Linked DNA regions of Homo sapiens. The protein of the gene in region 1 purifies or fractionates together with the protein of each later gene. This does not show direct contact. Each region holds a gene or a part of one and is shown in the gene's direction. Other genes may lie near its edges.

Evidence for each region.
Region 2: the proteins of SHPRH (region 1) and CHD5 purify together in Homo sapiens (affinity purification with mass spectrometry, with the first as the bait; one large-scale study listed by BioGRID). This does not show direct contact.
Region 3: the proteins of SHPRH (region 1) and LIN9 purify together in Homo sapiens (affinity purification with mass spectrometry, with the first as the bait; one large-scale study listed by BioGRID). This does not show direct contact.
Region 4: the proteins of SHPRH (region 1) and SAP130 purify together in Homo sapiens (affinity purification with mass spectrometry, with the first as the bait; one large-scale study listed by BioGRID). This does not show direct contact.
Region 5: the proteins of SHPRH (region 1) and ARID4B purify together in Homo sapiens (affinity purification with mass spectrometry, with the first as the bait; one large-scale study listed by BioGRID). This does not show direct contact.
Region 6: the proteins of SHPRH (region 1) and SUDS3 purify together in Homo sapiens (affinity purification with mass spectrometry, with the first as the bait; one large-scale study listed by BioGRID). This does not show direct contact.
Region 7: the proteins of SHPRH (region 1) and GATAD1 purify together in Homo sapiens (affinity purification with mass spectrometry, with the first as the bait; one large-scale study listed by BioGRID). This does not show direct contact.

Annotation. Positions count from the first base shown.
Region 1 is NC_000006.12:145,887,566-145,891,722, reverse strand, and holds part of SHPRH (E3 ubiquitin-protein ligase SHPRH), read left to right. Parts: intron 1-3,622; coding exon 3,623-3,703; intron 3,704-4,157. UniProt on the Homo sapiens protein: E3 ubiquitin-protein ligase involved in DNA repair.
Region 2 is NC_000001.11:6,103,788-6,107,461, reverse strand, and holds part of CHD5 (chromodomain-helicase-DNA-binding protein 5), read left to right. Parts: intron 1-682; coding exon 683-846; intron 847-952; coding exon 953-1,067; intron 1,068-1,174; coding exon 1,175-1,182; 3' UTR 1,183-1,228; intron 1,229-2,034; 3' UTR 2,035-3,674. UniProt on the Homo sapiens protein: ATP-dependent chromatin-remodeling factor that binds DNA through histones and regulates gene transcription. May specifically recognize and bind trimethylated 'Lys-27' (H3K27me3) and non-methylated 'Lys-4' of histone H3.
Region 3 is NC_000001.11:226,298,758-226,302,914, reverse strand, and holds part of LIN9 (protein lin-9 homolog), read left to right. Parts: intron 1-1,709; coding exon 1,710-1,742; intron 1,743-4,157. UniProt on the Homo sapiens protein: Acts as a tumor suppressor. Inhibits DNA synthesis. Its ability to inhibit oncogenic transformation is mediated through its association with RB1. Plays a role in the expression of genes required for the G1/S transition.
Region 4 is NC_000002.12:128,014,560-128,018,716, reverse strand, and holds part of SAP130 (histone deacetylase complex subunit SAP130), read left to right. Parts: intron 1-801; coding exon 802-1,037; intron 1,038-2,169; coding exon 2,170-2,328; intron 2,329-3,802; coding exon 3,803-3,914; intron 3,915-4,157. UniProt on the Homo sapiens protein: Acts as a transcriptional repressor. May function in the assembly and/or enzymatic activity of the mSin3A corepressor complex or in mediating interactions between the complex and other regulatory complexes.
Region 5 is NC_000001.11:235,181,206-235,185,362, reverse strand, and holds part of ARID4B (AT-rich interactive domain-containing protein 4B), read left to right. Parts: intron 1-2,569; coding exon 2,570-3,778; intron 3,779-4,157. UniProt on the Homo sapiens protein: Acts as a transcriptional repressor. May function in the assembly and/or enzymatic activity of the Sin3A corepressor complex or in mediating interactions between the complex and other regulatory complexes.
Region 6 is NC_000012.12:118,382,681-118,386,837, forward strand, and holds part of SUDS3 (sin3 histone deacetylase corepressor complex component SDS3), read left to right. Parts: exon of another isoform or gene 1-704; intron 705-1,331; coding exon 1,332-1,387; intron 1,388-3,433; coding exon 3,434-3,505; intron 3,506-4,157.
Region 7 is NC_000007.14:92,450,204-92,454,360, forward strand, and holds part of GATAD1 (GATA zinc finger domain-containing protein 1), read left to right. Parts: exon of another isoform or gene 1-497; coding exon 498-557; intron 558-4,157. UniProt on the Homo sapiens protein: Component of some chromatin complex recruited to chromatin sites methylated 'Lys-4' of histone H3 (H3K4me), with a preference for trimethylated form (H3K4me3).

The DNA of each region.
Region 1 (4,157 bases):
CCCATGGCGATCTTGCCTCATACAGGGGAAACATATACAATCAGATTAGAAGTACCTCATCTTTCCATCATCAACTTGAACAGTCTGCCTGCATCAGTACTCACATACTTTTTGGTAGATTTTTATTGAGTATCTTCTGTGTGCCAGGCACTGTTTTAGGAACATGAGATGTCCTCATGGAGTGCGATTCTAGCTGTAATGGGGTTGGTAGACAGAAAGGTGGTAAACAATAAACTAAGTACAATCTGGACTATGTTAGGAGCTGGAAAAGTAGAGCAGGGTGAGGAAGTAAAAGTGCAATGTTTGGGCAGGAAGGCATGCAAGGCCTTATTGAGAAAGTCTGAGCAAGGACTTGAAAGAAATGGGAAAATGGGAAAGTTAGTCATGCAGCTATCTTGTGAAAGAATGTTCAAGTAAACAGTGCTTTCGGTGCAAAGGCCCTAAATCAGGAGTGTGGTATGTTAGAAGAATAGCAAGGAGCTACAGTTGCTAAAAGGGAGAGAAGCAGGAGTTGAAGTGAATGGGCTCAGTGGGGAGAGGGATTACATTGGGCCCAGGAAGCCACTGTGAGGATGGTGCTTTTGCCCTGTGTGAAATCGGGAGCCATTGGAAGGCTTTGAACAGAGGCTTGGCATATCTCACTTAAGTTTTAAAAGAATCATTCTGAGTGCTGTGATAGGGTGGGAGTGAAGGGGAGCAAGGAAGAGTAGAAGCAGGGAGAGTCTTGGAGGCTATTGCAGTCATCCTGGTGAGAGCTGAAGGTGACCTGACCATGGCAGTAGCAGTGCACATGATGAGGAGTGGTCAGGTTCTGGATATATTTTGAAGATAGAACTGATAGTACTTTTGGACAGACTAGACATGGGGTATGAGAGGGTCAAGGATAACACCATGGGTTTTGGCTTGGACAACTAGAAGGATGAAGTAACCTTCAACTGAGCTGGAGAAGTCTACAGGGTAGAGCAGATTTGGTAAGGGAAGAACAGACATCCAAATGGAGATTTCTATTCTGTAACTAGATGTACAAGTCCATTAAGTCACGAGACTGAATGAGATTACCTAGGAGTGAGTTTAGATAGAGACAGAGTTTAGATAGAGGACCATGGACTGAACTCCAGGGCACCAAAGTTCAGCTGTTCTAGGAGAGGAGAAGGAAGCAGCAAAGGTAACAAATAAAGATCAAACAGTGAGTTAGGAAGAAAACCAGAAGACAGGAGTGTCCTAGGAACCAAGTGAAAAATGTACCTCAAAGAAGAGGTTATGGTCACCTGTTTCAAGTGCTATGAAAAATGTCAAGGAAGATAAGGATTGAGAATTGATCATTAGATTTAGCAACATGGAGATCAAAACCAGGTTAAGTGGTAGAGGTGACAGCCTGACTTTAGTTTTGGAGAAAATGGGATTTTGTGTATTTCTTATTTAACAAATATTTGTATAACAAAGAGAGGTTAGGTAACTTGCCCATAGTCAGGCAGCTAGTAGAAGCAGTGGCAGATTTCAGGCACAGCCATTCTGCCTTCACAGTACAAGCTTTAACCACAGTGCACTGCTGCTTCTGTGTGGCTGGTAAGGCCAGTATTTTGAGGAGTTTTGCTGCAGAGAAAAGGAAGAGAATGAGATCAAGAGAGGTTTTTGTTTTCCTTTCAAATGGGAGAATTAGTAAGAAAATGATTCATTAGAGACAACAAAAACTAGTGAAGGAGAACAGGGAGAATGCTTGACAATGTCCTTGAGTAGGCAAGAGGATATGGGATCAAACACTGAAGTGGAGGAAGGGGTTGGTAGTAGGCAGAAGCATGGATATGTCATCCAGTAATAAGCAGGAAAGTACCTCATATGCCTTCCCTTTTATTACAGCAGAAGTGTCCCTTTTCTTTCAAAAGCCATCCATTCATTTGTCCTGGACTCCATTCTTTCTCATTTTTCAAGGACAGGTGTACATTTCCCTTGTACAGGTTGAGCATCCCTTAACTGAAATGCTTCAAGTGTTTTGCCTGTAGGATTTTTTCAGATTTTAGAATATTTGCATATACATAGTGAGATATCTTAGGAATGAAACCCCAGTCTAAACATGAAATTTATTTATGTTTCATATACAAATTCTACTCATAGCCTGAAGGTGATTTTATATAATATTTTAAATAATTTTGTGCACAAAACAACGTTTTTAATGTGTTTTGACTGTGACTCATCACGTGAAGTCAGGTGTTGAATCCTCCACTTGTCACGTTGGCACTCAAAAAGTTTTGGATTTTGGGTTTTTGGTTAGGGATACTCAACCTGTCATATATTACCCCATAAATATGTCTTAATATTATCCATCTTTAGAAAGAAAAAAACACTCTGATACATCCTACCTCCATCTCTACTTTTTTATCCCCCATTCTCTGTCAACCTGTCTGGTTGATTTTCTCCCCACCATATCACTGAAGTGAGACTTATAACATTTCTAGTGACCTACTTCTTGCCAGTGGTCTGAGGGTTCTTTGTCTACACCCCTTCGATGAATTTTTCCAGTCTTAGGGCTTTAGGTAGCTTTTACAGGTTGATGACTCTCAGGTGTATATCCCCCAGCCCAGACATGCCCATATAGCTCCTGTCCCAGGTGCATATATCCAGTTCTAGCTCTGCACACATATCTCTGGACTCACCTTGGATACCTGTCTAATAGGTATCTGATAGGTTTCACATGGACAAAACAAAACTGTGTTGCTTCTGCACTCTCACTCCCACCCTGAGCTTTCCCCATCTTATAATGTGGCACTGTCATCTGTTCCTGCCCAGATCAGAAATCTCGGACTCTTCTATATTTTTCTTTTCACATCTCACATGCCAGTCATCTTTTAAGTTTTGTCAGCTCTACCTCCAAAAGATATTCCAAATCTACTTGACTGCTATCTCCACTGACACAACCATAGTGCATCCACCCTTACTTACCCAGATGACTACAGGACTTCTTAACTGGCTTCTCTGGTGCTCTTCTTGCTGAGCAAGAAGTACATCCTCCACACGGTTGCCAAAGGGATTTCTAAAGTACAGTCAGGTATACATCAAATCATGCATACAAACCCACCAAGGGCTTCCCATTATAACCACGATAAAATTCAAATGCTTGGTCACATCCTGGAAGGCCCTGTGTGACCTGGCCCCTGCACATCTCTCCACCCTTATTTTCACCTCTCTCCCTCGCTTACAGGATGCTTCTGCCATGCCAGCCTTCTTTTGGCCTCTTGAACATGTTAGGCTTGTTCCAGGCATATTCCCTTCCCGGGGACTGTGTATGTATGTGCTGTTTCTTCTGTTTGGATATTCTTCCTACTCCTCCTTTGCCTACTGGCCTCATTCCCATCACTCTTTTTTCAGTTTGCATGTCAGCCTGTTCTCCCAGCATTATATTTACCTGAAACCGTCTTACTCTTTTATGTGTTTATTGTCTGTCTCTCATTAGAATGTCAGCTCATGGAGATTAAATAGTTCATTTTATTCGCTGCTGAACCCCTCCCAGCACCTGCCACAAGTGGGCACCAACTGACTGATGAATATAGCATATAAAATGTGAAGTCGGTTTGTACTGATTTGTTTTACTATGTTTTTAAGCTTAAAATTCTTCTGTACCTTTTAGACCTACTATTGTACACAGATTCTTAATTAAAGCAACAATAGAAGAAAGAATGCAGGCAATGCTGAAAACTGCTGAGAGAAGGTAGGTAATAATTTACCACAAGTAGAAGGGGGAAGGTTTTCCTGTTAAAAGTTTGTATCTTTAGAACTTCTTCACTTAGATGACAACGAAAAATATAGCACAAATACGTTTTTAAAAGCAAAGTCTGACGTTTTGCCTTTTCACTGTTTCCCAGTCAGTGCTCCAGACTTTGTATATTTGAATTAATTTATTAATTGTAACATGTAAATATAAACTATACTACATTCCTTTGCCACATTGGATCACTTTCTGAGGCTGGGAGTTCGAAACCAGCCTGGCCAACATGGTGAAACCCCATCTCTACTAAAAACACAAAAATTAGCCAGGCATGGTGACACGCACCATAGTCTTAGCTAGTCGGGAGGCTGAAGCAGGAGAATCGCTTGAACCCCGGAGGTGGAGGTTGCAGTGAGCCAAGATCGTGCCACTGCACTCCAGCCTGGGCAACAGAACG
Region 2 (3,674 bases), on another chromosome or scaffold:
CCATTATCCCTCCCTCATCCCTTCATTCCTCCATCATCCCTCCATCCCTCCATTTCTCCACCCCTCCATTCCTCCATCATCCCTCCATCTCTCCATCATTCCTTCATTATCCCTCCATCCCTCCAACATCCAACCATCATCCTTTCATCATCCCTCCATCTCTCCACTCCGCCATCCCACCATCATCCCTCCATCTCTCCATCATCCCTTCATTATCCCTCCATCCCTCCATCATCCCTCCATCCCTCCATCATCCCTCCATCCCTCCATCTTCCCCCATCCCTCCACCTTCCCTCCATCCCTCCATCTTCGCTCCATTATCCCTACATTATCCCTCCATCCCTCCGTCCTTCCACCCCTCCATTCGTCCGTCCTTCCACCCCTCCATCATCCTTCCATCGCTCCATCATTCCTCCATCCCTCCATCTTCCCTCCATTATCCCTCCATCATCCCTCCATCATCCCTCCATCCTTCCACCCCTCCATCCTTCCACCCCTCCACCCCTCCTCTCCTCCATCCCTCCACCCCTCCACCCCTCCATCCCTCCATCCTTCCATCCCTCCATCCTTCCACTGCTCCACCCCTCCACCCCTCCACCCCTCCATCCCTCCATCCTTCCACTCCTCCATCCCTCCACCCCTCCATCCCTGCATCCTACCATCCCTCCGCCTCCCACCACAGTCCTGAACCAGCTGGAGGAGCTGCTGAGCGACATGAAGGCCGACGTGACCCGGCTGCCATCCATGCTGTCCCGCATCCCCCCGGTGGCCGCCCGGCTGCAGATGTCGGAGCGCAGCATCCTGAGCCGCCTGACCAACCGCGCCGGGGACCCCACCATCCAGCAGGTCAGGCTCGGCCTGTGTGCCCCGGCCCGAGCCCCCTGGCGTGCCCCTGGGTGGAGGCTGGGTGGGGGGCCTGAGACCACCTGTGAAGCTGAGTCCTTGCCTCCAGGGCGCTTTCGGCTCCTCCCAGATGTACAGCAACAACTTTGGGCCCAACTTCCGGGGCCCTGGACCGGGAGGGATTGTCAACTACAACCAGATGCCCCTGGGGCCCTATGTGACCGGTAGGTGCCCGTCCGCTCCGGGCAGCATGCACACGGGTGCCCGCCGGGCCCGGCCTGCCTGCTGCTGCCAACGTCAGGCAAGCCCGGCTCTCCTCTTTTTTTGACAGATATCTAGCCGTCCTCGAGACTTCCCTGTGTTGCAGCGCTCATTTCCAGCTGAGGTGAGGGCTGCTGGGTGCTGTGTTCCTCCCCGCCACCCCATTGCTGGCAAACCAGGCCTGGCCACAGTCAGCCCTGCCCCTGCACTTGACTCCCGTCCCTAAGTCCTGGAGCTTTTACTGCCTCCGGCGGCTTTGAGAGCCACCCACCTGCCTGGAGCCCCTCTACCTTGCCCCCTTGGCCCTGGGACCACCTTGTGGCCAGCGTGTCTGTCCACTGGGAGGCTGGGGTGGCAGGACATGAAGGGGTCGGTGGACTTGGGTGAGCTCCTGTGTGTGCACATGTGTTCTCATTTGCACACATGTTCCCAGCGGAAGTCAGAGACTGCTGCCCCCGCCTGGAGCCCTGTCCTGCCCCTGCTGTCCTGCTGGTGGCAGACATCACATCTTGTCTTACACCCTCACTTCCTGCCCAGGACCAGGAGGGTGGCTGAGGGTTTTGTGGGGGCTATTGGCCAGGAGAGGGGGCTTATTTCAGAGAAACTGCCAGTTCATTCTGGTCTTCTCTGGGGCCACCAGCCTCCACTACGCTGTGTCTGTCCCTGTGGGAACCGTGTCTTGCTGGAGGAGGCTCCAGAGGGGCTTCCTGGCTGGCTGCCCCTGCCCACTGCTGCTTCCTGGGTGCTCTCGGCACTCTGGGTGTAGCTCATGGCCTGGCCCGGCAGCCTGTGGCTGGGAGGTCATGGCTGGGGGGCACCCCGATCATAGTTGGTTGTGATAGGTGGAGAAGCAGCTACAGGCTGTTGGGTGCCACCCTGATGCCCCCTATAACTGCCCACCTGCTTAACCCACTGATTTGCGTTTTGCAGCCACGCCTGCCGGGCCACCTGCCCGACCCACATGGGAGAGAAAAGCTGCCACCTTTTTAGGAGCCAGCGCCACCTTGGGACAAAAAGGGAAACCTAGTAATGCCATCACATGGAGGACGAGGCCCAGCTCAGCTGGGCCAGAGCCCAGAAGTGCCACCTCATCATAATTCAAGTGTTCTTCCACACAGCGTTGCCCCCACAACCACGCCGGACGTGCCCCCTCGCCACCTTTTCCAGACGACTTCTTAGAAGAGATTTCATTTATTTGTACATCTTTTGCACTTTCCTATTGAAGACTTGAACACGTTTGTCTTGATAAAAGTTGGATGACGTATGGAAGATTCGAACCTGCAGCACTGATGTCTCTTTACCGATGGGTTCCAGACCCAAGGTAGTCCTGGCACTGCCCTGTGGACTCAGCCCAGCTGGGGAGGACATGGCGCCCGGTGCCCTAGGAGCCCTCAGTGTCCCCTACCTGACCTGTCTGCACCTGTGTGACAGCCCCTTCTGATTTGGCCCCCTGCCCGCTTGGAGCCTCCCAGCACCAGACAGGGCAGGTTTGGGGAGCCGCTGTCCAGCCCTATGGTGAGACCCTGGCTGACATTTCCCCTCCTTCCTGCCAAGGCTGGAGGCCGCCAGGTGTTTGCTCTCTCCTTGTGGGGAGGTGGATCCTCTGCCAGCAGGTGTCTGTCCCCGGCCCAGCGCATCTTGAAGGCCCTGGACTCTGTTACCAGTGGGGGGCCTGTGGCCCCGGCTCTTCACAGCAGGCAGAAGCGTATGATCCCAGGGAGGGTGGGCTGGGGGGGGGGCAGCACTTGCCTCGGAGCCACTGCTGCGTTGGGTTTGCCTTCTGCCAGAGGTGTGGTTAAGGGCAGTGATAGCTGCGCCCCAGCAAGGAGGGTCATGGGCCCTGAGCTGGCCCAGGAGACCCTGGCCCTGCCCTGTGCCCTGGGATGCCTACCCTGCCCACCTCCGGAGGTGGAACCGGGCTGCCCCTGGGGGCCTGGACTTGTCCCATTCCCCTGTCCCTGGAAAGGCCTTCCCGGGGGCTTTTTGCCTGAGGCTGCACTCTTGGAAGGCGTGGGGAGAGTTCTGCCTGGAGGGGGACTGGACCCAGTGCCCTCTGCAGACCCCTCCCAGCCGCAGCACCAAGGGCTTGCTGCCTTGTTTCCTGCCAGGAGCGCCCTGACATCCCAAAACCATCTTCCCACATGTGGGTTGTTGGAATCCCACCCACTCCCCCGGACCCTGCCCCTCCAAGTTGGGGACGGAGATGGGGAGCAGGTCAGGCCCTCCCTAGGCCTGTTTGTGTGTGATCCTTCTCCTGGCCCCAGGTCGACCTGGAAGGCGTTTCTGAGTCTTGTACTGGGACCTTCCCAGGGAAGGTGCCTTGGGGTGCAGAATCCTGGGAATGTTAGGAAAGGGCTGCGTGAAAAACCCAGCTGGGCCTGGGGTGGAGGTGCACACGGGCTGGGGCTCAGCTCCTTGGAGAGGGCCTGCCTGGGACTGAGGGGGCCAGGGCTGGGTCAGGATTCACCAGCTTGTGTTGCAGACACTGGAGCGATTGCCTGGCCCTCCCTAAGCCCTATATGCCTCACTCATAATGAGGCTGTCTCTGAACCCCGGAGGGCGGGACCTAC
Region 3 (4,157 bases), on another chromosome or scaffold:
TGTGGAGGAAAAAGTCAGTTGAGGTTTAGTGATCAGAGATGCATAGTGTTTAAGGATCTGAGATGAAGTGTTTCATAACTGCCATACTTTATCTGTTGCTTCTCATTTTAAGTCTGTTATCCATTTATATGAGATGTAAATCATAGCTGCTTTTGTTAAATAGCAAGGAGGATTAATCCGTCCTCTCTGATTTTTGTTCCTAGTTCATGTTCTTTTTTATTTAATCCCCTGAGATCATCCTTAATTATTATTTTTCAGATGACTTGGACTTTGCAATGTATACATCCAATTCTGAGATTTTTAAATTTAGTGCTTTCTCACTCTCAAAAAGCTTCTTTCTCTATTGGTTTGTTTTTTTTTTTTTTTTGGACATGGAGTCTCACTCTGTCACCCAGGCTGGATGGAGTGCAGTGGCGCAATCTTTGCTCACTGCAAGCTCTGCCTTGTGGGCTCACGCCATTCTCCCACCTCAGCCTCCCGAGTAGCTGGGACTACAGGTGCTCGCCACCACACCCAGTTAATTTTTTGTGTTTTTAGTAGAGACGGGTTTTCACCGTGTTAGCCAAGATGGTCTTGATCTCCTGACCTTGTGATCCGCCCACCTCGGCCTCCCAAAGTGCTGGGATTACAGGCGTGAGCCACCGCACCCGGCCTCTCTATTGATTTTTCTACTTTCCCTACCCATAGATCCTATAATTCATTCACACCAGAACCTGTAGCCTGATGTTTCTCAAAGTGGGTTACCTGCAACAGAATCCCCTGTTGTTTATTAATAATATAGATTCAGTCTAGATTTTGCATGTATGAGGAGCTTCCTTGTTATTCTAATGTCTTTTTTATTTTTTTGAGGCAGAGTCGTACTCTGTCTGTCAGGCTGAAGTGCAGTGGCACGGTCACAGCTCACTGCCGCCTCAACCTCCCAGGCTCCAGCAGGCCTCTCACATCAGCCCCCTGAGTAGCTGACACTTTAGGCACGTGCCCCCATACCCAGTGAATTAAAAACATTTTTTTAGAGACAGGATCTCCTTATGTTGCCCAGGCTGGTCTCAGACTCCTGGCCTCAAGCTAGCCTTCCCACCTTGGCCTTCCAAAGCACTGGGATTACAGGTGTCAGCCATCATACCTGGCCTCTAATGTACACTGGAGTTTGTTTTATCCAGTGGACCCCTCCAACTTTATTCTAGCCCCTCTTGGCCATTCTGTATTCCCTTTTCCAGCTTAGATCTTGAAGTATCACATATACCTGCATTCTAGACTTTCAAGGGACTTATTGCTTGCTCTGACAGTCCCTGAATCATTTCCATTGCCTGTTTTTTTCCACTCCATTACTACATCAGTCTTTGCCTCAATGGATGTCGGTTCCCTTTCTCTTTTCTTCCAGCACCACAGCACGCCTGGATGAGGATCCAAAATTACCTCTGTCCCCACTCTTCCTCTTTCTTCTGTTTCTTCACTTTCTTCTCCTGGAATGGTCTCCAGTTCTCACAACTTCAGCAAGACTCTCATATGTCTCTCTCCAGTTCTTTCTTTATCTGAGTTCTGGTTTATAGTTTGAATTGTCTGCCAGATATTTCGAATTGCACATTCCACCATCTCTTCAAACTCAACATTACTAAAACTAAATGGATCACTTTTACCCCCAAACCAAGGTCTTTTTCTCTCACTTTGGTTATGAAATAATTATTGATTTGTTTTATTTTTAATTGCAGGCTCTTCAGCAAAAGCCCTTGTCAGTTTAAAAGGTAAGAAGTATAGCATTTTTAGGTATACCATAGCTAAAAGTCTAATTTGTTAAATTAATCTGGATATAGTGTTTCCATTTTCCTTCTAAGTTATGATTCATTGTAGCTTTTCAGTATTGGTTTTCACTGATAACCTTAAATTAATATGCTTTTATAGGAGAATTGATCCTCAGTTGTTAGAAATTATTTTTAAAAATTTCTAAAATTATTGATTAAAAACCTTTCTAATTAAACATTCCATAAATATTTAGATTAAAAGCATTTGTTAAACGACTGTGCTGACCTATATGTTAGCATAATTGTTTGTTTGTTTGTTTTTGAGACAGTCTCTCTCTGTTGCCCAGGCTGGAGTACAACGGTGCAATCTTGGCTCACTGCAACCTCTGCGTCCCAGGCTCAAGCGATTCTCCTGCCTCAGCCCCCTGAGTAGCTGGGATTACAGGCATGTGCCACCATGCCTGGCTAATTTTTGTAATTTCAGTAGAGACGGGATTTCACCATGTTGGCCAGGCTGGCCTCAAACTCCTGGCCTCAAGTGATCTGCCCACCTTGGCCTCCCAAAGTGCTGGGATTACAGGCGTGAGCCACTGTGCCCAGCAGATTTTTTGTTTATTTATTTTTTGAGACAGGGTCTCGCTTTGTCACACAGGCTAGAGTGTGGTGATGTGATTACAGTTCACTGTAGCCTCGACCTCCTGGGCTCAAGTGATCCTCTTGCCTCAGCTTCCCATGTAGCTGGGACCACAGGCACATGCTACCATGCCCAGCTAATTTCTTTATTTTTTGTAGAGAGGAGGCCTCACTTTGTTGCCCAGGCTGGTCTCGAACTCCTGGGCTCAAGGGATCCTGCTGCCTCAGCTTTGCAAAGTGCTGAGATTACAGGCATGAGCCACCACACCTGGCCCGTAATAGCTTATTTTTAAGAGTCTTGCTTTCACTGGGCACGGTGGCTCACGCCTGTAATCCCGGCACTTTGGGAGGCTGAGGCAGGCGGACCACTTGAGCTCAGGAGTTCGTGATTAGCCTGGCTAACAAGGTGAAACCCCATCTCTACTAAAAATACAAAATTATCCGGGAGTGGTGGCAGGTGCCTATAATCCCAGCTACTTGAGAGGCTGAGGCAGGAGAATTGTTTGAACCTGGGAGGCAGAGATTGCCGTAAGCCAAGATCGCGCCACCACACTCCAGTCTGGGAGTCTGGGTGACAGAGTAAGACTCTGTCTCAAATTCCAAAAAAAAAAAAAAAGAATCTTGCTTTCTAAGTAATAATGTCTTGAAATAAAAATAAAAGAATAATAGTACTTTTCTCATTCTAAGAAAAAGTTTGACATGTTCCTTGGTCTCACTATTTCTTTTGGCAGGTACATTAGACTAACCTTTTTAACATAGTTTCTTTAAAATTTTACCTCTTGATTAAGATTCTGGTAGGTCAATAAATTTGGAACCAAGCTAAATATTCTCAAAGTACTTTTAGTCTTTAAAGCTACTATATTGTGCTTTGGATTGGTGATTTACCAAATTAAATCCTTCTAGCTTGAGAAGACAATTTGTCTTCCAGAACACCCCAGTTTGTTTGTCTTTTGTGATTCTTAAAAATTATTCCATTATTCTTTTTCTCCCAATATTAAACTCATTTCTCTCCCCCCTGCCTTTTTTTTTTTTTTTTTTGAGACTGAGTCTCGGTTTGTCGCCCAGGCTGGAGTGCAGTGGCACAATATCTTGGCTCACTGCAACCTCTGCCTCCTGGGTCAAGTGATTCTTGTGCCTCAGCCTCCTGAGTAGCTGGGACTGCAGGCATGCATCACCACACCTGGCTAATTTTTGTATTTTTAATAGAGATGGGTTTTCATCATGTTGGCCAGGCTGGTCTTGAACTCCTGACCTCAGGTGATCCTCCCACTTTGGCCTCCCAATGTGCTGGGATTACAGATGTGAGCCACTGCACCCGGCACTCATTCATCTTGATAAATCATTTATATAAGTAACGTACATTTCTTATGGAAAAAATGAGAAAATGCTGATGAGCCACTAGAAGAAAATAAAAATAACCAGCTTGTATATTCATCCCAGTTTTCTATGCCTCTATATAAACATCTTTTTTACAAAAATTAAACTTACCCCTCTTTATTTTCACAATATGTCTAATCATTATAATATGTGTAAATCATAATATGTCTATTCGATAGAATTCTTTTCTGCTTGTGTACAACTCTGAAGACATTTCTCTGAATTAAGGAAAACAGAAATAACCACGCTGATTTACTTTTTCTTTTTTTGTGAGGGGACAGAGACTTGCCATGTTGCCCAGACTGAAGTGCAGTGGTGCTATCTCGGCTTGCTTCGACCCTGGCTCGCTTTGACCCTGGCTTGCTTCGACCTTCGCCTCCCAGGTTCCAGCAATTCTCTGCCTCAGCC
Region 4 (4,157 bases), on another chromosome or scaffold:
AGGGTTAAGTGATCCTCCTCCCTCTGCCTCCAATATAGCTGGGATTACGGGTGCATGCCACCATGCCCATTTAATTTTAAAATTTTTTGCAGAGATGGAGTCTTACTGTGTTGCCAAGGCTGGTCTTGAACTCCTGGGTTCAAGGGATCTGTTTGCCTTGGCCTCTCAAAATGCTAGGATTGCAGGTGCAAGCCACTGCACCAGCCATCCTTTTTTTTTTTTTTTTTTTTTTTGGAGACAATCTTCCTCTCTCGCCCAGGCTAGAGTGCAGTGACGGAATCTTGGCTCACTGCAACCTCTGCCTTTTGGGCTCAGGTGATCCTCCCACCTTAGCCTCCCAAGTAGCTGGGATTACAAAAAAACGTGGTTTTTGGTTTTTGGTTTGTTTTTTTTTTTTTTTTTTGTATTTTTAGTAGAGATAGGGTTTTGCCATGTTGGCCAGCATAAAATATCTTTTTAATGTCAGGCTTTTATAACTTTCTAAGAGGATGTTTTAAATGAAATTGTCTTACATCCTGTATTGTACTTTTAACTATTTCAGCTCATTTTAGATGATTTTCAGGTAGTTTGTTCATAAGGCTACAATATCCAGAATAAATTCTATATTCCACAGTTGTGGCTCTTTTGTCTGATGTCCATCAGGAGAATCCAGTGCCCATATTGACCTTGTTAAGAAAACATCACAAGGAAATGGCCACTTTGTCAATCCTGAGATTTAACTTCAGGTACCACTCTTGTCTGTGCTGCTATCTTACACTGGGAGACTGTGACATACTGTCTCACTCTTAATGTCTTTACTAGTCAATGATGAATCTGGTCGAGATTCTGAAGTCAGTGCCAGGGAGCACATGAGTTCCAGCAGCTCCCTCCAGTCCCGGGAGGAGAAGCAAGAGCCTGTTGTGGTAAGGCCCTATCCACAGGTGCAGATGTTGTCGACACACCATGCTGTCGCATCAGCCACACCTGTTGCAGTGACAGCCCCGCCAGCACACCTGACGCCAGCAGTGCCACTTTCATTTTCGGAGGGACTTATGAAGGTAATGGAGAGGGTTAAAACTTCACACTGAACCAGAGCTCGAGACTGGCTAATGTTTGTAACAATTTGTATAAAATCTTAGGCTGTATCTTAGGATCACATTTCATTTTTTCTTTATGACATATGAGTTCAGCTCCTTTCTGTAACTCAGCCCTGATTTTCTGCAGTGCCTTGTCTTGTGCTGCTGGGCAGTTGGCATCATAGGATCTTTGCTGTTATCCATTTTGATACTGATATTATTCAACTTATGGGCATGTTAAGTTAGATACAATCTTGAAGGGACCCTCTTTTTTTTTTAAGCCAGTCAGATTTAGCAGTGGGGGCTTAATGACATTAATGTTTTGTTTCTGTTTTTATTTGAGACGGAGTCTTTCTCTGTCATCCAGGCTGGAGTGCAGTGGTGCGATCTTGGCTCACTGCAACTTCCACCTCCAAGGTTCAAGCGGTTCTGCAGCCTCAGCCTCCCAAGTAGCTGGTATTACAGGCGCACGTCACTACGCCTGGCTAATTTTTGTATTTTTAGTAGAGATGGCGTTTCACCATGTCGGCCAGGCTGGTCTCAAACTCCTGGCCTCAAGTGGTCTGCCCGCCTTAGCTTCCCAGATTGCTGGGATTACAGGCGTGAGCCACTGTGCCCAGCTGACAGTAATGTTATAAGTTCAGATAACCCAGTACCATGGGACCAAGTGGAGTGGCACTCTTCTTTAAGGTTTGTTTTAATAACTGGTTAATTTGGGGGTTTCTGAGAATATTGCCTGTGTATTACCTTGGGGTTGTGTTTCAGTTACTGGGAGTTTTGTTCAATCCACCCAAACTTGGGAGGCAGCATCATGTAGAAGAAAGGGTGTGGGCTGTGAGCCATACAGCTCTGGGCTTTATTCCCAGTTCTACTTCTTACTGTGTGTGTGGCTTTGAGCAAGTCAGTTAGCCTTGCTTTGTATGTTTCTTTATCTGTGAAATAGAAATGCTAGTACTTCAGTGGAAACACTGTGATGATAATAGATAAAATGTATAAAGCTTACGGCATCTTTCCTGGCACTTTCCAGGTTCGATTTGTGCACTCTTAATTGTGGATTGAAATGCATCACCAGTATGAGGCCATTGATATGTTTTGTGTGGTTTTCTGTTTGCAGCCGCCCCCGAAGCCCACCATGCCTAGCCGTCCCATTGCTCCTGCTCCACCTTCTACCCTGTCACTTCCCCCCAAGGTTCCAGGGCAGGTTACCGTTACCATGGAGAGTAGCATCCCTCAAGCTTCAGCCATTCCTGTGGCAACAATCAGTGGACAACAGGTTTTTCTTCCTTTTAATTTGCTGATTTTCAAACTGAAATGCCAAACTGTTGATCATGATTTATTGAATGCTAGCAGTACATTAGTCACGGTAATAAAAAAAGATCAAACAGTCACTGATACCTGCAAGTGAAGATAGTAGGTTTGAGAGAGAAGGATAACTGTAAAGGGAGTAGAAGCCAGTGTCCATAGTGGTCATTTAGCTAGAATTTATTGAGCAGCTACTAGATGCTCGATTCGACCCTAGTGTGATATATAAATCTAGATAAAACAGTCCGTGTCCTTGAGGAGTCCGGAGTCCGGTTCGTGTTTGGTTTTAGCGTCAAGAACTGCCTTCCGGGGGTAGGCAGTGCTGCTCTGTGGTTTCTCTGAGGAGAGCAGATGTGCATCTCTTGGGATAGGTTACCTCAAGCAGCTCTCTAGTTCCAAACTTTTTTTTTTTTTTTTTTGAGACAGAATCTCACGGTGTCACCCAAGCTGGAGTGTAGTGGTGCAGTCTTGGCTCACAGCAACGTCCACGTCCCGTGTTCGAGCCATTCTCTTGCCTCAGCCTCCCGAGTAGCTAGGATTACAAGCGGGCACCACCACCCCCAGCTAATTTTTTTATTTTAATAGAGACGGGGTTTCACCATGTTGGCCAGGCTGGTCTCCAACTCCTGACCTCAAATGATCTGCCCGCCTCGGCCTCCCAAAGTGCTGGGATTACAGGCATGAGCCACCGCACCCAGCCTTAGTTGCGAACATTTATTCTGAAGTCTTCTGTTTTAAGGTTTTTTTGTGAAATTTTGCAATCCTACTCTGCTGTGTACCTGATTAATTAAATATTTTACATTTTTTACCTGGGGAAAAAAACTAAATCTAAAAACTTTCCCTTCACATTTTCAAGAAAAATTTATATCCCAAAGAGGTGTACTGTGTTTTTTCCTTTTGTCATACTGCTGAGTACTCTCAGAAGTACCAGAACCCTTAGCTGAGAAGCCCTGAACTCTGTGGTTTGGGAGAATGTAAGGGACATTTCAGGGTTGAGCTGAAGAACTGGTAGGGAGCACCTGTTGGATACCAACTGACATTTACTTAGAAACAAAAAAGCTTAAAGAATGGATGGATGCAGTGGTATGTAAAGGAAATAGTGAGAATGGGAAAAAAAATAAGCATTTGGCCAGAACAGGGAAAACAAGTGTGAAAGGTAATATCGCAGATGAGAGTTTCTAAACGTAGATATCGAAGTATATTATCTGTAATTATGTGGGCCTGCAGCAGTTGTGGGGTCCTCATACTTCTCACATGCCTGTTAGCACAGTTCATTGTACGGTATGGCATGTAAAAGTAGCTCAAGCTGAATGTCCTTAGCCCTTTCTCTTGGGATACTCACTATCTAAAAAACAACCTGACCCACATTTGGAGGCAGGTGACTTCCTAGAGGCAATGGCTAAGAGCAAACATGTAAAAATAACGTTCTATCCTCTTTCTTTCAGGGCCATCCCAGTAACCTGCATCACATCATGACTACAAATGTGCAAATGTCTATCATCCGCAGCAATGCTCCTGGGCCCCCTCTTCACATTGGAGCTTCTCATTTACCTCGAGGTAACGACTTGCAAGTTTTGTTCAAACTCTCAAAATGTAGTAGTAGATATACATTTGGTAAAATACGTAACACAGAATGTATCTAGAATCAGCTTGTTAAAGTTGCAGAACAACAGTCTGCAGAACCGTGAACCAAATAAACCTCTTTTATTTAAAAAGAAAAAAAGGCCAGGTGCTGCGGTTCATGTCTATAAACCCAACACTTTGGGAGGCTGAGGTGGTAGGTTCACTTGAGTCCAGGAA
Region 5 (4,157 bases), on another chromosome or scaffold:
AGGAAGATGTAACATGCAGAAAAGTAGTTGGAAACTCTTGGAAAAATAAAATGCTGTATAAGAAAGGAAGTTTATCAAATGTACTACTTATTTCTGCAGGGAACCACATTTACATATGTTATAAATACTATATTGTAAAAATGAAAGATAACTATATATAGAAAGGATGGTAGAGGGGAGATATGGGTGTTGATAAGTAAGAATCCCCATTGCTCATAGAGGATAAACTTTATAAATAAGTCAGCAGGCCAGGGACGTTGGCTCATGCCTATAATCCCAGTGCTTTGGGAGGCTGAGATGAGCAGATCACTTGGGGTCAAGAGTTCGAGATCAGCCTGTCTAAAATGATGAAACTTCATCTCTACTAAAAATACAAAAATTAGCTGGGCATGGTGGCATGTGCCTGTAGTCCCAGCTGCTTGGGAGGCCGAGGCAGGAGAATTGCTTGAATCCAGGAAGAGGAGGTTGCAGTGAACTGAGATCACACCACTGTACTCCAGCCTGGGTGACAGAGTGAGATTCCGTCACACACACAAAAAAATAAATAAAACAAATAGTATATTATGAATAGTAAGAGATGACTATAACTATCAGATGTTAACACTTTGGAGGTGGAAAAACAGATTTTTATCCTCTTTTTGGTTTTTCATTATGAGTCTAGATTTGTTTTTAATGATGTATATGTATTGTTTTGATAATTTAAAAAATGTGGCCATGCAGACACACATTGTAAAGGTGAAATGGTTTCACAATCTTAGTTATGTCAGTTATGTTTTACATTTAATGAATTTAGCTAAAGAACATGCATGGATTTCTCAGTAGAGAGCTATAGTTAAGGTTGTAAGTTCTGGAGTTAAATGACTTAGATTTAACTACCTTGGGGGGTAGATTAACCTCTAAACCCCAGTCCCTTTTTTTTTGCTTTGTTTTGTTGTGTTGCTTTTTGTTTGTTTGTTTTTCTTATTTATTTAAGACCCTAGTCTCTTGAACTATAAAGTGGGGCTGATAACATGTATCTCGTAGCATTGTTCTGAGGATTGAATGAGATGGTCTGTTCAAAGTGTATCAAAAGTAACCAGCATGTAGTAAGTTCTCAGGAAATGTTATCTTAAAATAACAATAAAATGATTTACCAGAATGAACACACTGAAGCAGTAAGTTCCATAATTAATTTTACATAAGTTATCAGTAACTAAAATTAATTATATCTATTCTTTAAAACATCATGGAAATCATTGATTACAAAATTATTGGATATTCATTATTACATTGAAAAATGAAGCTGGCCAGGTGTGGTGGCTCATGCCTTTAATCTCAGCACTTTGGAAGGCTGAGGTAGGCAGGTTGCTAGAGCTCAGGAGTTCAAGACCAGCCTTGGCAACATGACGAGACCCTGTCTCTACAAAAAATACAAAAATTCACTGGATGTGGCACACCTGTAGTCCCAGCTACTTGGGTGGCTGAGGTGGGAGGATCATTTGAGCCCAGGAGGTTGAGGCTGCAGTGAGCCATGATAGTGCCTGGGGAACAGAGTAAGACCCTGTCTCAGAAAAAAATAGAGAGAGAGAGAGAAATAAAGAAAGAGAAAGGAAAGAGAAAGGAAGGGAGGCAGGGAGGGAAAGAAAATAAAACAAAACAAAACAAAGGAAAGAAAAATGAGAGGCCAGGTGCAGTAGCTTGCTCCTGTGATCCCAGCTACTCAGGAATCTGAGGTGGGAGGATCTCTTGAGCCTAGGAGTTTGAGGCTGAAGTGCACTGTGATTGTGCCACTGCACTCCAGCTTGGATGAGAGAGTGAGACCGTCTCTGATGAAAAGAAAAATGAAGGCTATAGTTTCATAAGAGTATAAACTTGGGGCCAGGCGTGGTGGCTCACGCCTGTAATCCCAGCACTTTGGGAGGCCGAGGAGGGCGGGTCACGAGGTCAGGAGATCAAGACCATCCTGGCTAACACAGTGAAACCCCGTGTCTACTAAAAATACAAAAAATTAGCCGGGCGTGGTGGTGGGCGCCTGTAGTCCCAGCTGCTCAGGAGGCTGAGGCAGGAGAATGGCGTGAACCCAGGAGGCAGAGCTTGCTGTGAGCCGACATCACGCCACTTACACTTTTAGCTTGGATGACAAAGTGAGACTCAAAAAAAAAAAAAGAAGAATATTAACTTGGAGGTAGCACAATCTGGGATTATATCCTGACTCCACTATTTTCTCAGATATATTATGATAAAAATATTATACTTATATAAACTTGGAGAAGCTTTTTTCTTTTTTATTTCAGCTTTATTAAGGTACAGTTTACATAAAAGTGATGACTTTTATGTTTAAAATGTGATGGGTTTTGACAAAAGTATACAGTGTTACAACCATCACCGTGATCGTAATAGAACATTTCCATCATTGGAAGAGCCTCTTAGCCTCTTTGAAACCCAGTTTCTTTGCATGTTACATAGAGATAAAAGCCAGCAACCTCGGGTGGCTGTATACACAGGACCTAATATATACAGTCCCTGGCACATAGAAGACATTGCTAGTGTTCTTATCATACTCATCATTTTTTTTTCTGTTATTTTCTAGCTTCTGAAAGTTCTGCTGAAGACAGTGAGCAGGAAGATGAGAGAGGTGCTCAAGACATGGATAATAATGGCAAAGAGGAATCTAAGATTGATCATTTGACCAACAACAGAAATGATCTTATTTCAAAGGAGGAACAGAACAGTTCATCTTTGCTAGAAGAAAACAAAGTTCATGCAGATTTGGTAATATCCAAACCAGTGTCAAAATCTCCAGAAAGATTAAGGAAAGATATAGAAGTATTATCCGAAGATACTGATTATGAAGAAGATGAAGTCACAAAAAAGAGAAAGGATGTCAAGAAGGACACAACAGATAAATCTTCAAAACCACAAATAAAACGTGGTAAAAGAAGGTATTGCAATACAGAAGAGTGTCTAAAAACTGGATCACCTGGCAAAAAGGAAGAGAAGGCCAAGAACAAAGAATCACTTTGCATGGAAAACAGTAGCAACAGCTCTTCAGATGAAGATGAAGAAGAAACAAAAGCAAAGATGACACCAACTAAGAAATACAATGGTTTGGAGGAAAAAAGAAAATCTCTACGGACAACTGGTTTCTATTCAGGATTTTCAGAAGTGGCAGAAAAAAGGATTAAACTTTTAAATAACTCTGATGAAAGACTTCAAAACAGCAGGGCCAAAGATCGAAAAGATGTCTGGTCAAGTATTCAGGGACAGTGGCCTAAAAAAACGCTGAAAGAGCTTTTTTCAGACTCTGATACTGAGGCTGCAGCTTCCCCACCGCATCCTGCCCCAGAGGAGGGGGTGGCAGAGGAGTCACTGCAGACTGTGGCTGAAGAGGAGAGTTGTTCACCCAGTGTAGAACTAGAAAAACCACCTCCAGTCAATGTCGATAGTAAACCCATTGAAGAAAAAACAGTAGAGGTCAATGACAGAAAAGCAGAATTTCCAAGTAGTGGCAGTAATTCAGTGCTAAATACCCCTCCTACTACACCTGAATCGCCTTCATCAGTCACTGTAACAGAAGGCAGCCGGCAGCAGTCTTCTGTAACAGTATCAGAACCACTGGCTCCAAACCAAGAAGAGGTTCGAAGTATCAAGAGTGAAACTGATAGCACAATTGAGGTGGATAGTGTTGCTGGGGAGCTCCAAGACCTCCAGTCTGAAGGGAATAGCTCGCCAGCAGGTTTTGATGCCAGTGTGAGCTCAAGCAGTAGTAATCAGCCAGAACCAGAACATCCTGAAAAAGGTGAGAAGGAAAATGTGTATGTTGACTTATTTTAGGGTTTCCCCTCTTAAAGTTTCAATGATTTCACAGTATCTCTTGTTATAACCTGAGGCGATTAAGTGTCATATTTGTGTGAACATGGTAAAAATGGAAATTTTAAAGGTAATTTGAAAATGAATAGTGGAATGCATTTAAAAGCTTGAGAAGGCTTTAATGTGCTTTGCTTGAGCCATCCATGGCATTTTATTGTGGACCAGAACACATGCTAGAAATTGCACCCAGGCCCAAATCCAAACCTGTTTGAGAATTCATTATATGCAGTGGTTGACTATATGGCATGAGCAGCTTAAATCTATTTCTGTAACATTGTTTTTGCAATTGTAATGTGCAGTTTCTCACG
Region 6 (4,157 bases), on another chromosome or scaffold:
TTTAAGAGACAGGGTCTTGCTCTGTCGCCCAGGCTGGAGTGCAGTGGCATGATCTCGGCTCACTGCAACCTCCAGCCCCTGGGTTCAAGCTATTCTTCTGCCTCAGCCTCACGAGTAGCTGGGATTACAGGCGCCCACCACCACGTCTGGCTAATTTTTTTTTTTTAAGTAGAGACAGGGTTTCACCATGTTGGCCAGGTTGGTCTCGAACTCCTGACCTCAAGTGATCCACCCGCCTCGGCCTCCTAAAGTGCTGGGATTACAGGCGTGAGCCACCTTGCCTGGCCTCCCTTAGTATTTGATGATACAGAAAAAATTTCGGTTAAAATGGAATGCCTTGTGTAATTCAAGGGGAAATCTAAAGTGCATCAGAATTTGCCCTGAAAGAGTGAGATGTGTGTGAGTCTCAAATTCTGCCTACTCTCCTCCCCTTACAGAGGGTTGGGTTGTATTTGCAGCCCTTATTTGAGCGCTAAAAAGGTTATCACGCCCATGTGCTCACTTCAGCAGCACATATACCAAAAGGTTATTGTGCTTGTTATATGTTGGACAGTGTTCTTTCAGATCACAAATCTTGTTTTTATCACTGTTAAATTGAGGGTGTTTTTCAGGTAGAAGCAAAAATACTTGCTGAAATGTGATTTATATGTGGAACCCACCTTCAAACCAACTTGCTGAAGTTATGACTGCCTATAATCCATTAGGTGTGAGAGGAAAAAACTAACATGCCAAATGCTTTTGCTTCGTGTGTGCTGTGTATTCCCATCCAGCTGGGGCTGCCAGTAAATGCTGCCTTTTAACTTTTCTTTCTGAATTACTATTATTTCTCTGATCCTAAAAGAGTAGTGCTTTAAAAAATGACATGAAGGTTTATTGACTTAGTTCTTACACTGCTAAGCATATCTGCATAGAAAAACATGCTGAAGGCATAATCTTACTCTCCTGTAACTTACAATCTAATTGTAGAGTTGATGTAAGAGTTGTGTTTAATGCCATTTCTACATTGTGTGTGTGCTTGCCTGTTTATAATTGTCATTTATTAAAATCTGCTATCGTTGCAAGTTTTAGACGGATTCTGTAAAGATGGGATAACATGGGAGAATCTACAAAATTAGAATAAGATTGAGGAACACAGGGTTCTTTCTTGTTCCTTTCTGATCCCTGTGGCTGCTGGTGCATTTTAAGCCAGCAAGCAGACTTTACTTTCCTCTCTTCCCTGAAGGACATTAATGACCTTCCCATAACAGCCCAGCTAATTTCTGTGAGTAGGTTATTTTGGAATTGAGTATTGAATGTTTTTATCTGTTAGTGTGACTTTTTTTTTTTTATAGGATGTATCAGGACAAACTGGCTTCTCTCAAGAGGCAGTTGCAACAACTGCAAGAAGGTTGGTGTGTGATTGAATCCTGCATTTCTAAATATGCTTCTTAATATTACAAACCCTTGAAATCTGTGTATTTCACTTCTCTGTGGGAGTTATTTAAAACACGGTCTGGCTGATCTTAGCTATCCAGTACATTTTGCTATCTTTTGCTGTCAGTAAAGTGGTGATTTTCCAGCTCCTTGATTTTGAAACATTTATTTCCAGTATGTGTGAGATTCTTTCTTCAAATGAAATCTCACTTGGGACTTTCAATGGAGCACGAATTGAACGCCACTGTGCCTAAAGCTAGAGATTTTTAGGAGAGACATTGTTATCAAAGAATAAAGTTTTTACTGTTTTTTCTAAACCAAATGTTAATGACCTTGTGGATTATTCACACTGTGTTTTCTCCTTTTTGCTTGTTACATTAAAAGTAGATTGTATTTTGTCAAATGCTGCTAGCTGCTAAAGGCAGTGCAGCATCAGAGTTAAGAGTGCAGGCTGTGAGGCCAGGCGCGGTGGCTCACACCTGTAATCCCAGCACTTTGCGAGGCCGAGGCGGGTGGATCACGAGGTCAGGAGATCGAGACAATCTTGGCTAACATGGTGAAACCCCGTCTCTACTGAAAAATGCAAAAAATTAGCTGGGCGTTGTAGTGGGCACCTGTAGTCCCAGCTACTCTGGAGGCTGAGGCAGGAGAATAGCGTGAACCTGGAGGCGGAACTTGCAGTGAGCCAAGATCGTGCCACTGCACTCCAGCATGGGCGACAAAGCGAGACTCAGTCTCAAAAAAAAAAAAAAGAGTGCAGGCTCTGGAGTTTTGTGAGGGATTGGAATCCCAGTTTCCCTGCTTCTAGTAATGTGACCTTGGACATGCCAGTTTCTCTTGTTTAATCTGTTTTCTGATCTGCAAAATGAAGCAAGTAAGAGTAGATGTGATTATGCATGAGGAGCGTCTAGCACAGCAGTGTGCACACTGCAAGGTCCTGGGGACAGTTAGCTGTGGCAGTGAGCTCTTCGGTTTCATATTGTGGAGTCCCCTTGTCAGTGAAACTGTTTTTGCTTTTCTTTTTTTTTTTTTCGAGGCTGAGTTCCGCTTTTGTCACCCAGGTGGAGGGCAGTGGCGCGATCTCAGCTCACTGCAACCTTCACCTCCTGGGTTCAAGCGATTCTCCTGCGTCAGCCTCCCGAGTAGCTGGGATTACAGACGCCTGCCACCAGGCCCGGCTAATTTTTGTATTTTTAATAGAAACGGGGTTTCACCACATTGGCCAGGCTGGTCTTGAACTCCTGAACTCAGGTGATCCGCCCACCTCAGCCTCTCAAAGTGCTGGGATCACAGGCATGAGCCACCATGCCCAGCCTGATACTGCTGTTTCTACTATGTGCTTTTATTGCTGGTGAGTGATCCACGCCCTTGGACTAGCCCATGGTCAGGCATTATAATCAGGAAACACTTCCCCCCACAAGATGGGCCCCTCATAATTAACTGTTTTGTGGGAAGAGCAATGAAATGAATAGCGATTTGGTTAGAATCTATACCTGAATTGTTTAATGCTGTCACTAGCCACATGTGGCTGTTTAAATTTAATTAATAATTTAGTTCTTCGGTTCCACTAGCTACATTTCAAGTGCTAAAATAGCCACAAATGGTTAGTGCCTGCCATGTTGGACATTGCAAATATAAAACACACCATTGCAGAAGGTTCTACTGGAGAGCGTTGACCTAGACCTTACTGAAGGAGAATGAACCTTTTCCAGTAAAGGAAGGCCCGTTGATTCAGACTGTTGCAGCAACTGATCAGAATAGTGTGGAGATATTGGCAATTTTCCACTCCCCCTCACTCACTACAGACCCTTGATCCACTGGGTTGGGTAGACTTTGAATGGGCCCCTAGTGGTTTCTGCTGTGTGCCTTGGTTAAGAACCAGAGTTAACTTTGCTGAGGTGTGTCTTCCTTTGGTGTTACTGAAACAGTCAGTGTTGATGCTAGATAATAATTTTAGGAAGCAAAATGTAGAGCAGATTTATATTCACAATAATTTTATTTTTCAAATGTTCAAAATCAGGTACATTACAGGAATATCAGAAGAGAATGAAAAAACTAGATCAGCAGTACAAAGAGAGGATACGGAATGCAGGTAAGGCTCCTTTAAATGGCAATGAATCATCTTTCAATGTTTGACCATTTGCCGATCGTCGGTGTAATGCAGCCCTAAGAGCTATTCTCCAAAACATATCCCAGATACTCTGTCAGGGAGAGTTTTCAGAAAAGAGACTTCCAAGCTGCAGTTATGGAAAGTGGTTTCATCTTCTGCTTCTGTTGCTAAGGAATGGCCCAGAAGTGGAGGGTGTCTGAGGAGGCTCCTTGGAGTTAGGTTGTTCTCCCTGGTACCCCAAGAGTAGTCTTGCACCCTCTTGCTCATTTCTGCATGGCTGGCCTGATGTACAGTCAGAAGTGCGGATGAGGAAAAGGATTGTAGGTTGTTTTTGTCCCATTTTAAGTTTTTTTTTTTGGTATTTTGTGCTAGGATTGGGGAGGGTCTTCTTGTTATTTTCCCCAAGTATTGTTTTTATAAGAATTTAGAGAAAACGCACACTTGATTAGTTGTATACAGTAAATGTATTCATTCAACAAAAATGAATTGAGCACCTGCTACATCTAAGCACTGCGAGCAATATAAAGTCATGTAACACATTGCTTTGACTTTAGGACACTTGGTGTTTCATTGACAAAAGATACCACATGTATAACGTGTAAAGTTAAGGAACACCGAGTTAAAGAGCCATGCA
Region 7 (4,157 bases), on another chromosome or scaffold:
GCAAATTACTAAGAACTCTCAAAGTTTCTAAAGCCTTAGTTTCAGCTTGCTAGAAAACCTATGTTGAGTATTATGGCTAGTTCCATAGTTGAGTTGGGAAATGTCTTTGAGGAGACACTTTTTCACTTTGTATTCATCTGTACATTTTCTGTTACTTGCATTCTGTCATGCTCAGGCTATTAGAGCAGGTACATTTTTATAACTGGAATGTTTATGTGTAGTGAAGCTCTGAGAGGACTTTGCATTAGATCTCAGCAGCATAATCAGAAGGTTGTCCTTTGTCTCAGCAATTTTTAAGCTAATAGTAGCAGAAATTGCAGTGGAAATAGACTGCTTTGCCACAACATTCAGAAAATCATTTATCTTTTTATTGCAGTTCTTGTCACCAAACAATACATTTTAGTACTTCTCAAATTGCAGAACTCTCATAGGGCTGGGAAAATGCCTGTAGACACATACATACTATGAATGTGCTAATGTTTTTTGTATTTTCATAGCCCATCAAAGCTCCTGAGTCAGTTTCCACTATAATCACTGCAGAATCAATCTTCTACAAGGTAAGCTTTTGTAGAGTTACTGAAGGAAGAGTTGGGCCTAGTGGGTAATGTGCCACTAAAATGTTGGATTAGTCTAAAGGTCTCTGCTACTCTTTATTTGTATAAGGTGTGATTATACTTTTTGTTCCCTTCTTAGCTGTTTTCCCCCATAAGTGGCTGTTATTAAAACATCTCATCTAGAGCTGAAGTGGGAGGAGAAAGTGCCTACTGACACATGATGTGAGGATCTTAAGTATTTTTTTTTAGTGTAGATTGTAGGAATTATTCTTAAAATGCTGATTGTATAGTGTGGAGCCATGGAAGACTGAGCCGTTAGTGCGATGGCATTGAAGAATGAGAAGGACAGAGACAGGATTTGGACTAGTAGAGGTTGTCGACTGTGGTGTCAAATGGGTAGAGTAGGCCCAGAGATTCTAAAATGCCTTTAAGTGGAGTTGAGCTGAGTAAGGGCAGTAGTGAGGATTAACACCTACTAGAAATTCATAGTGAGAGGAATTCCAAGATGTTTTGATAAAAGAATGAGGAGGTCAGGTTTCCCAGGGCCAAAGTCCATGAACATCTGATACCTCAGTGAGAGAAGTGACAGATTGTTGTGTTTAAACCAGAAGTCTTAGGAAAGGAATTAGAACATAGACCCCCAAGGCTCGGCAGGCCTGGCACGGCACAGGCAGCAACCATTGAAGGCTATTTGGTGTTTCGGGATCTGAACTGTCATTTAGGGGACAGTGGTGTGAGTTAGTACTTTATACTTGACCCAGGTGGACTGAGAAACTCAAGTGATGATGCCCTTAAGTATACTTTTTTTTAAGCCCACAATCTATATAGTCGAAGTCTGTTCCTCCCAACAGGGGTACACTGGCATTCCTCAGCAGGGCTGGGAAAAACCAACAACAAAAAAAGTCTGTACACAGGCAAACATCTCTCTTATTTTTCCAACATTTAATACATTGTTAATAAAATATCTAAAGTTTAGCAAACAGTTGCTGTGTATCAGTGGCTGAGCATTTTGCATGCTTTATTTCATTCAGTTCACTCTATGAGGTGGATACTACTATCCCCATTTTCTAGATGAGAACATTGAGGCACAGCGAGGTTAATTAACTTGTCCAAGATCACATAGCCAACAAGTCATGGAGTGAGGCAGTCTCATGCCAGAGCTTAAGCCTAGAGCATAGTTCCTGGCTCTACAGCTTTAGCAAGTGACTGGCTATGTGACGAGGACCAACCTCTCTAATGTCTCATCTGTAAAATAGGAATTGTAAATAGTTACTACCTCAGTGGGTCAAATGAAATCATATGTGTTAAGCACTTAGCAGAGTAAGCACTCAATGAATAGTAGGAGTTATCACATCTTCGTATTTGTGCATTACCTTCACAGTTTACAGATTAAGGCCAGAAGCAACTTGTTGAGCTACGGGTTTAGTGTACTAACAGTTTCCATGTGTGTCTCCATGGAAGGGTGTGTGGGACCTGTTATTGTGACTGTCTGTACTTTCGTATTGTTGTCTGCCACCCATGTTTATTAAATGATAAGGACAATAATGCAACAAAGTAGTCAAGTAATGTTGCAAATGCCCAGTATTGTAGTGGCTATCACAGCAGTGCCACTGGCAGGCAGCACCATGGTGGCAAGTTCAAGAGGTCACTGCCAGCCACTGAGCTAGAGCCCAGATCAGGCATGCAAGAGGAGCCTGAGTGGGAGCCACTGGGGATCACGGCCAAGAGTGTGACCACCCAAGACCCAGAATGGCTGAGTGGCCTCCCTGGAGCATGGCAGTGGCAGAACAACTCCATGAACTCAGATCTGGTGATGCCTAAACTAGTGCTGTTCTCGTGTGGACCCCTTTTCTCTACCAGAAACCTTGAATCCTCTCAGCAAATGAGGAGACTACTCAGATCAGTGACTTAGTCCTGTTTGGTGTTATATATGTGTACACAACACAGCACATATTAATAAATACCTACTATGTGCCAGGCACTGCCTACCACTGGAATCTTTCACTAAGACATTGTTTTTACTTTGCATTTCTGCCTTTACACTATGAAAGTAGATGTTTTGGATTCATATTCATTCAGCATACATTTGAATATGCTGTGTTATGCATAGTAAGCCTATGATAAGCAAGTATTCTCATTTAGAATTTGGGAATATTGATTATACATGTGGACAAACAAACCATAAATGCAAACTATTTATATGATAAATAACTTTGGACTGATGGCTGGGAGGAAGGACCAGCTATTGATGGGTAGGAACTAGCAAGTAGCGGACTGTGGCCTGCATAGACCAGACCCATCCGTAGTGATCCAGATGAAACAGCCACCCTCAGACACTTGGATAAAGGGTCCACCAGGAAAAAACTCCTGGCCTATCAGGTGCTATGTTACAGTTCAGTTACTGGAAGTATTTCCTCAAAAGTGTTTTTATGGTTGAGGTACACATTCCTACAGCTTTACCTGCTGCCAAGTCCCTGTTTCAAGGGAAGCAGCAATGAATTACACTGTTCCCGTAGTCAAGGACAGTATATCTTACCAAGAACTATACCCACTTAAGGAGGTGCTGGATGTCATAAAGATTTGGATCAACCATTATGGGTGTTCAGAGGAGAGATTATTTCCAGCTCAAGACCCAGGGAAGAGGACATAGGATGGATACCAGAGTCATAGGGAGGATTTAACACAGGACATGTACACATTAGTTAGTTGGGTATAAAGTGGAACAGAAATGAATGAGACACAAAGCCTTGAATGCCAGAAATACTAGTAGTCCTGTTGTGGAAGGATATAAAACTCAACTGGGAGTGGAAGAGAAAGGCAGCAGTGAGTCTAGGAGATGTACAGTAGGTTGAGGTAAACATATCCTGAAGACTATAATCCAAAGATTATTTTTGGTTTGAATTTGTTTTGGTTTGAATTCATGGTATCTATTTTCTTTGAGTGGATGGTTGGGGAGGGTGGCATGTAGAATGCATTCTTACCAAATCAGCATGATTTTCAAGACAGTACAGAGAAAAGACTGCTGAGCTGATGTAGGAGCTTTGGCTGCAGTCTCTATGGCTTTCAGCAAGCCGTTTAACCTTACTACTGCTTCATGACTGTGGCTAACAAAGTAGGGATAGTACGGAGCACAGAGGATTTTTAGGGCGGTGAAACTATTAATACTCTCTTTGTATGATACTATAATGGTGGGTACATGTCATTATACATTTGCCCAACCCCACAGAATACACAGCACCAAGAGTGAACCCTAATGTGAACTCTGGTCTTTGATGATGCTATGTCAGTGTACGTTCATCCGTGTAACAAGTGTACCACTCTAGTGGTGGGAGGGGTTATTGATAATAGGGGAGGATGTGCATGTGTGGGGGCAGGAAGTATATGGGAAATCTCTCTACTTCTGCTCAATTTTGCTGTAAACCTAAAACCTCTGTAAAAAATAAAGTCTATTTTTTAAAAAGTGGGGATGGTATTACGGCAATATAAAATCAAAATACTTTATGAACAAATCTTTTCTCCAGATGTAAACTGTCATATATGCACCCTCGTATGTGTATGTATAATTTTCATTCAAACGTGAAACAACTTTAGAATTGGCACCAA